Homo sapiens: one gene and its partner. The protein of the gene in region 2 interacts with the protein of the main gene of each other region in a pairwise test. Each region holds a gene or a part of one and is shown on either strand. Other genes may lie near its edges.

What was found.
Region 1: the proteins of OPLAH (region 2) and ZNF451 interact in a two-hybrid assay, tested with the Homo sapiens proteins (one large-scale study listed by BioGRID).

Annotation. Positions count from the first base shown.
Region 1 is NC_000006.12:57,145,660-57,149,471, reverse strand, and holds part of ZNF451 (E3 SUMO-protein ligase ZNF451), read right to left. Parts: intron 2,383-3,812; coding exon 779-2,382; intron 1-778. UniProt on the Homo sapiens protein: E3 SUMO-protein ligase; has a preference for SUMO2 and SUMO3 and facilitates UBE2I/UBC9-mediated sumoylation of target proteins. Plays a role in protein SUMO2 modification in response to stress caused by DNA damage and by proteasome inhibitors (in vitro).
Region 2 is NC_000008.11:144,050,468-144,054,243, forward strand, and holds the end of OPLAH (5-oxoprolinase), read right to left. Parts: intron 2,927-3,776; coding exon 2,742-2,926; intron 2,663-2,741; coding exon 2,516-2,662; intron 2,434-2,515; coding exon 2,299-2,433; intron 2,132-2,298; coding exon 1,982-2,131; intron 1,860-1,981; coding exon 1,702-1,859; intron 1,610-1,701; coding exon 1,449-1,609; intron 1,360-1,448; coding exon 1,262-1,359; intron 1,006-1,261; coding exon 859-1,005; 3' UTR 799-858; downstream 1-798. UniProt on the Homo sapiens protein: Catalyzes the cleavage of 5-oxo-L-proline to form L-glutamate coupled to the hydrolysis of ATP to ADP and inorganic phosphate.

The DNA of each region.
Region 1 (3,812 bases), on a different chromosome or scaffold from region 2:
GGAGTTCAAAACCAGCCTGGGCAACATAGTAAAATCCCATCTCAAAAAAATTTTACAAATAAAAGAAGATACACTTAAAATTATACTCTAAACAAAAACAAATTATACTTCTAAACAAAACAAATTATACTTCTAAACAAAATAAAAACATAACACCTGCCTAGACTTACTTAATCCTATCATATGGAAGAAAGAAAGTCTGGAGTAAGTACAAACAAGGAATTCATATTTCAATTTTCCCCCTGGTTTCCTGCTACCACTTTAACTCTACTTCTAATTGCTATTTTAATTGTATGTTAAAGCTTTTCTTCCAAGTTAATCATAACAAAAATATACAAATGCTGAAATGACCTTTAAAATGTCTCACACTAAAGAATATGGCCAAATAGAAACAAAAAGAATTCACGTGATTTATCTTTTTAGTTAACCCAAATATTACAAGAAAAATCTAAATGATATTAATACTAGGATAACTTTGAAATCTAACTTTCAGAAAAACTATCAACTTCCTTCATCTTCAAAATCTCCACACCTTTTGTAAAATAAAATGATATCTAAAATATATATTATTTAAAGCCAACATATACTCTGTCCTCGTAAGTTTAGAAAGTGGATAAATGTAGTAGTAGGAATACAAACCCCTAAAATGTATATACCATAATAATTAACATACCATCAAGAAGTTACCCTGTTTCTTGCTTCAAAATTGAATCGAGGTGGGTACATTGTAAGTTTCAATATCAGTATATGAAATTTGCATAGAGCTATAAAGCCATACCTATATTCTGATAGCTTAGGTCATTCTCAACTCCTTTCTCCATGTCTAAACTTTTTGAATAGTTTATTGCCTGTTTCAGTTTTCTCTCTGTATGTGAGGCACTAGCAGTAAACTTGTACAGGTTTGATTTTTCAGATCCAAAATGAGCCACACTGGGTTTCTGTAAGAAGCAATGTTTTCTATGGAAATGCTGCTGTGCACTCTCAGGATCATGAAATGCTTTGGTGCAGGTGCCACACTTGATTACATACTGCTGCTCCTCCTCATCACTCTTTTCTTTGTGCACTTGATGGATATGAGTGTTCATGTCGGTTAAATTCTGTGCTGTTGCCGAACATAAACTGCAGCGAAACCACAGTTTTCCTTTATCCAGCATGATTTGGAGACATCTGCTATAATCTTCTTTTCTGTTGACTTTACAGATGTAACTCTCACGGCAACCACAAGTTAACTGGTTACTGGTCTCTATTACTGGAAAATCATCTTCGGTTTTAATTGAAGTTTCAGTTTTTTCTGACACAAATACATAATCTATGCTGTGGTGCTCCTCATAATGACTCAGAAATGCTTCTTCCACATTAAAGATAAGATCACAAAGCCCACAGAAGTATTTAATCTTTATCTCATTGTCATGCTCATCTTGGCAATGTCGGTACAATGTTTCTATCTTATGAAAAGGCTTTCTGCAGTGAGCACAGCTGTATCTATGAAACTTGTGGCTTGCCAAAGACATGCAGTGCTGTTTTACATATTCCTGGGAATCAAACATATCTTCACAAATCCGGCATTGCCATTTACCCCTCGGAGAACTATTTGCCGGGGAATGATCAATAACAGTAATAGCTGATGAAGGCTTGTTAGCAGTCAAATTATCCAATGTTGTAGAGGATGATGGCAAAGTTTCACCTTCTACCTCATCCATCTCATAAAAATATCTGTGTCCATTATGAAATTCAGTCACATGTGCCATGATAGTATCTTTCCTTGTTAACTCCTTTTTGCATGTCCGACACCAGAAAAGAAAGTTATTTAAATGTGCCCCTCCGTGAATCCGGCTCATGTGTAAACGAATGACCCCTGAATCATCACATACCTTTCCACAGACCACACATTTATAACCCATTGTGTTTGCTGAGAAAACATGCTTTTCTACTGCATCTTCACTTGGGAATCGCTGATTGCATTCACAGAACCAGGTTTTAACTACTGATTTTTCTTTCTGGACACAAGCAACACCTTCATGGCTTTTATCTTTTAAATTCATCTTCTTTTTTGGAATGGCAATGCACTCCAGTGAGCTAGATTCTTTAATAGACATGGTTCTTTTAAGTGATGAAAATTTTGATTGATCCAACAATAAATGCAAGTCAGAAGAAGGATCCTTGTTCCCTTCGCTGCTGTGGCAATAGAGTAAGACTGATTCTTCCACTGAGTTAATGACTCGGACTTTGTGTCCTGAATTCTGCTTATGATTTTGGGTGCTGGTTTCATCCACAAAGACTTGATTGCAATCTGGACAATAACCTCTTAATATGAATTTCTCTGCAACCTGGGTAATGCTCTTCTCAGCTACAGCTACAGGTCCAGCATTTCGACAATGAACTCTAAATTAGATAAAAAGAAATAGAAAGTCTTTCAGAAGTATTTTCTAAATATACCATTGCTGCATTTTATTGCAGGAATTATAAAATAACCAACGTATAAATAAGCACTAAAAGATACTTTTCAATAAAGATGCAAATGACATAATGATGTTCTATCATCTCAAAATACTTGAGTATTATCTGCACTTTATCTATTTCTAGTTAAAATACAAAAGGCTAAAACTAGATTCAAAATTTTTTAAATTCAGGCAAATTTTAGAAAACTAAAATCTGTATCAAAAGCACTGACAGAGGACCTTATTGAACAGGCAAATTATTAGACTCTCCATGGTAATTAAACTGTATGTAAGAACACTATGGTTAAGATTCTAGACAACCCAGTTCCTATTCTTTAATAACTGATTAATGTTGATACTATAAGGCTATGGTAACCAAAACAACATGTACTGGTATAAAAACAGACACACAGATCAATGGAACAGAATAGAGAACCCAGCAATAAAGCCACATACCTACAAACTACTGATCTTTGATGAAATTGACAAAAATAGACACTGGGGAAAGGACACCCTATTTAATAAATGGTGCTGATAAAACTTGACAGCCATATGCAGAAGAATAAAACTGAACCCATATCTTTCATCATATACAAAAAATAACTCAAGATGGATTAAAGGCTAAGACCTGAAACTATAAAAATTCTAGAAGAAAACCTAGGAAAACCCCTTCCGGACAATGGCCTAGGCAAAAAATTTATGACTAAGTCCTCAAAAGCAAATGCAACAAAGCCCTAAAATAGACAAATGGGACTTAAAAGCTTAAGCATAGCAAAAGAAATAATCAAGAGAATAAACAGACAACTTACAGAATGGGAGAAAATATCTGCAAACTATGCATCTGACAAAGGACTAATATTCAGAATCTACTAGGAACTTAACAAGAAAAAAATCCACAAATAATCCCATTAAGAAGTGGGCAAAGGACATGAACAGACATTTTTCAAAAGAAGACATACAACTGGCCCATAAATACTCAACATTACTAATCATCAGAGAACTTCAAATTAAAACAATGCGATACCATCTTACACCAGTCAAAATGGCTGTTATTAAAAAGTCAAAAAACAACTGATGTTGGCAAGGATACAGAGAAAAGGGAACACTTATACACTGTTGATGGAAATGTAAATTAGTACAACCTCTATGGAAAACAATATGGAGCTTTCTTAAAAAACTAAAAATAGAACCGCCCTTTGATCCAGCAGTCCCACTACTGGTATCTACCTTAAGAAAAAGTAAGCATTATATCAAAAAGACACCTACACTTGTACATTTACCGCAGCACTATTGACAATAGCGATAATGAATGGAATCAACCTAAGTGTCCATCAATGGATTATTGAATAAAGAAAATATGGTATATATACCATG
Region 2 (3,776 bases):
GAGAGGAGGGCGAGGAGGGGCGGAGCCAGGAGGCCCGGCCCCGCCCACCGCGCGCCCGCCTCTCTCTGCAGACCACCGGCTAGAGCAGGAGCACGAGCTCTTCCGCTGTTTCCAGGATCCCTGCCGGCTGGGCACGCGCCAAAAGCAGCCCTGGGCCCTGGGTATCGCGCTTGGGGGGAGGGTACCCCCGCCGGCTGGGCACGCGCCAAGAGCAGCCCTGGGCCCTGGGTATCGTGCTTAGGGGGAGGGTATCGGAGCGGGAAGTGGACCTGGGGAGCGCCGTCGGCTGAGGCTCTGGCTGATGCCGCCCTCCCCCGGATCCCCCAGGGACCGCGCTGAGCACCTCCGTGCTCCACCAGTCCATGGCCTCCTCCCCCAAGATGCCGAGGCGGTGAGTTGCGACCTGGATGTAGGCACTGCCCGCCCGAAGCGCGCGGAGGGGCCCTGGCCTTGATGACACCGCCCCCCTACCAGGGCCCTGGAGCAGGAGAAAGGGCGCCACCTCTACCTGGCCGGCCTTCCCGGCAGAAGCCGCCGAGCTAAGCCCTGGAGAGGTCGGCGCCTGGACTACATCACGTACCGCGGAGTTCCCGGGTGGCTGGGCCTGCGGCACTGGGACGACCCTCAACCTGACTCCCGCCCCCAGGAGGTGGAGCAGGTGACGTTCAGTACCGCCCTGGAGGGGCTCACGGACCACCGGGCAGTGCGCCTGCAGCTCCGAGTCTCAGTGTCCTCCTAAGGCAAGCACAGATGAGGGGCGCGCGGCTGGCGCGCACAGACACGACTCGGAGCACGAACTAGGCGCCGTAGCTGCGTCCCCAGAACCGGGAGACTTAAGGCATCTTTATTGCGGGATCCTCACACGGCCTCCTGGGCCCGGCGATACTCATAGACGCTGCCGTGCTCGGGAAAGGCCAGTGCTTGCGGGGGCGACCCCGGCGGTGGGGCGGGGTCCTCCGGGTCCCCATAGCCACCGCCGCCGGGCGTGTGGAGACAGAACACATCCTGTTGGCGCGGGGGGGGGCGGGGAGGCGGGCTCAGTGCAGGCGTGGCCCCTCCCTGTCACCTGCGCAGTCCCCTCCCCACCGGGCAGCGTCCATCACCCGCCCCCATGGACCACGGAGGCCCGGTACGCGCCCCCTTTCCTTCCGGGGCCAAATTAAACTCGGCCTCTGGTCAGGTCTGCAACTGTTCCCCCTCTGTGGGATGGGGCCGGGAGGGGAGGGGAGGGGAGGGGGACAGGACAGGCCGCGGCCCTTACCCCGGGGTACACGGTCACCGACGTCTTGCCGCCCAGATTCACCGTCCGGCCGTTTTTGCGGATCAGCAGGTTTAGGCCGCGGGCGCCAGGCTCGCCCCCTGCGGAGGGAGGCGAGGAGTCCAGAGAGACCAGGGGCGGGGGTGGGGGCGGGGGCGGGGAGGGCCGCGAGGGCTGGGGAACCGCGCACCGTGGAGCCCGTATGGCCGGAAGGCGCGGCGCTCGGTCAGCACTGACAGCAGCGCCTCCTCACGAAAGAGCAGCTCGCGGGTGACGCCGTCGCCGCCTCGGAAGCGGCCTCTGCCCCCCGAGCCCCGCCGCAGCTCGAAGCGGCGCAGGATGACCGGGTACCTGCGAGGGCGAGGACGAGGGCAAAGACTCAGCGTGGCCCGAGCCCCGGCTCCCACCCGGCCGTGCCCCCAGCCTCCGCGCACGCCGCTCACCGGCTCTCCAGGATCTCAGGGTCGGTGATGCGTGTGTTGGTCATGTGGCTGTGCACACCGCTGCGCCCGTGCCAGCTGGGACCCGCGCCCGCGCCGCCCGCCACCGTCTCGTAGTAGCCCATGTGGGCGTTGCCCAGGGTCACGTTGTTCATGCAGCCCTGGTGAGGGCACCTGGTCGCTGCGCTGGGCTGGGGCAGGGCGTCCCCACCTCGCCCTCCCGCTCCTACTCCAGCCTGCCCACCCAGTCCGCCCCCGAGCTGCGCCCACCCCGCCCCCGCACCTGGGAGGCGGCGCAGGCCCCAAAGGCCCCCAGGATGACATCCACCACGCGCTGCGACGTGAGCACGTTGCCGCCCACCACCGCCGCCTCGGGCGACGGGTCCAGGATGGAGCCTCGGGGAATGACCACGCGCACTGGCGCCAGGCAGCCCTGTGCGGGGCGGGCGGCTCTCAGGAGCTCTTGGGGTGGGCTCCGGGAGAAACAGCACCCCACCCCCCGCCCCAGCACCCGTGGGGTCAGACCGTGGCTGGGCCCAGGAGGCGCACTCAGGGTGACCTCGGGCTGGGGCCCCCCCTCGCGCACACACCCCTGCGAACCTGGTTGAGTGGGATGTCGCGGCCCACCAGACAGCGCAGGCAGTAGATGAGGGCGGACAGGGTTACGGCCCGCGGTGCGTTGAGATTACCAAACACCTCCGGCCCAGTGCCGCTGAAGTCAAACACGGCGCTGCCCTGCGCGCCCCGAGGGAAGGGAGAGGCTGTCAGCGGCCGCACCGTGCCCCTGCCGCCTAGAGGCACTCTCCCCACGGCCCACCTGACTCAGGCTGATCTGCACACGGAGGCGGATGGGGGAACCGTCGTCCATGTGGTCTTCCGAGGACACCTCCAGGGGCAGGCCCCGGGCCTGCCGGGAGGTTCCAAAGGCACGCAACATGTCTCGCACGGCCAGCTCAGCGTTTGCCTGGCAGGGAGCAGGATCAGTGGTGGCCAGGTCACCTGCAGGATGGCCCTGCCGCCCACACTCCTGTGCCCAGGCCCACCTGAATATGGCCCATGTAGGCCTGCACCACGTCCAGGCCGTACTGCCCAATGAGCTCCCCCACCAGCTGGATGCCCTTCTGGTTGGCTGCCACCTGGGCACGGAGGTCCGACAGGTTGTCGTGCAGGTTTCTGGTTCCGCTGCAGTTGGGGACCTTGCCTGGCGCCCGCAGGGCCTCCGTCACCGCTGGATGGACAGTGTCATCACTGAGCCCCTGGCCAACCCTGTCTGCACCCCCAACCCAGGTTTCCCAGATCCAGACAAGGTCTCTGGCCCCTAGAAAGCACCGAGGCCTGGCCTGGGACTGCTCAGCACCTCAGGAAAGCCCCTCTCCTTGAGCCTGGCTCAGGGTCCCCTCTGAGGCAGCCACAAGGCCCTCTGCAGTGTGCCTGTGCATGTCCCTCTGTGGTCCACAACCCCTGCCCCAGCTCACATTGACCAAGGGAGCAGCCAGCAATGGGCCACCCTATCTGTGTCCTCAACACCCAGAACAGCCTGTGGTTCCATTACACCCACCCTCTGCCACCACCCTCCACCCTGGCCACGCCACTTCCCCTGGGCTCCCAGACCTGCAGCCTCAGACCAGGGCTGTTTTTCCCTGTCTCTCCTACCCCCACCCCCACCACAGGCACCCCTGCAGCCTCCATCCCCCCTTCCCTGCAGCTGCTCAGTGCCAGGCCCTCCACCTCCAGCTGCCCAAACTTGACCCCTGGCCCCCTCTCCCAAATCCCTCCAAATACCCACCTCCACCTCTAAAACTGTCCCCCACCCCCCGCCCTCGCTCTCCACTCAGCCCAAGACATCAGCATCATCCAGGGCAACTGCAGCTTCCCCCCACCTTGCCCCCCAGCCTCCAGGCCACTCTCAAGACCCCGAATCCTCTCTGCACGTGGGCACAGTGGGAGCTCAGCGCAGGCCCAGCTGAAAGCCCTTCACGGCCACCCACCACCCAGTGACTCAGACCTAGGCCCAGAAAACTCTACAGGGGCCTTTGGGCCCTGCCCCTGCCCTGCTGTTTCTCTGCGGACCCCACCCA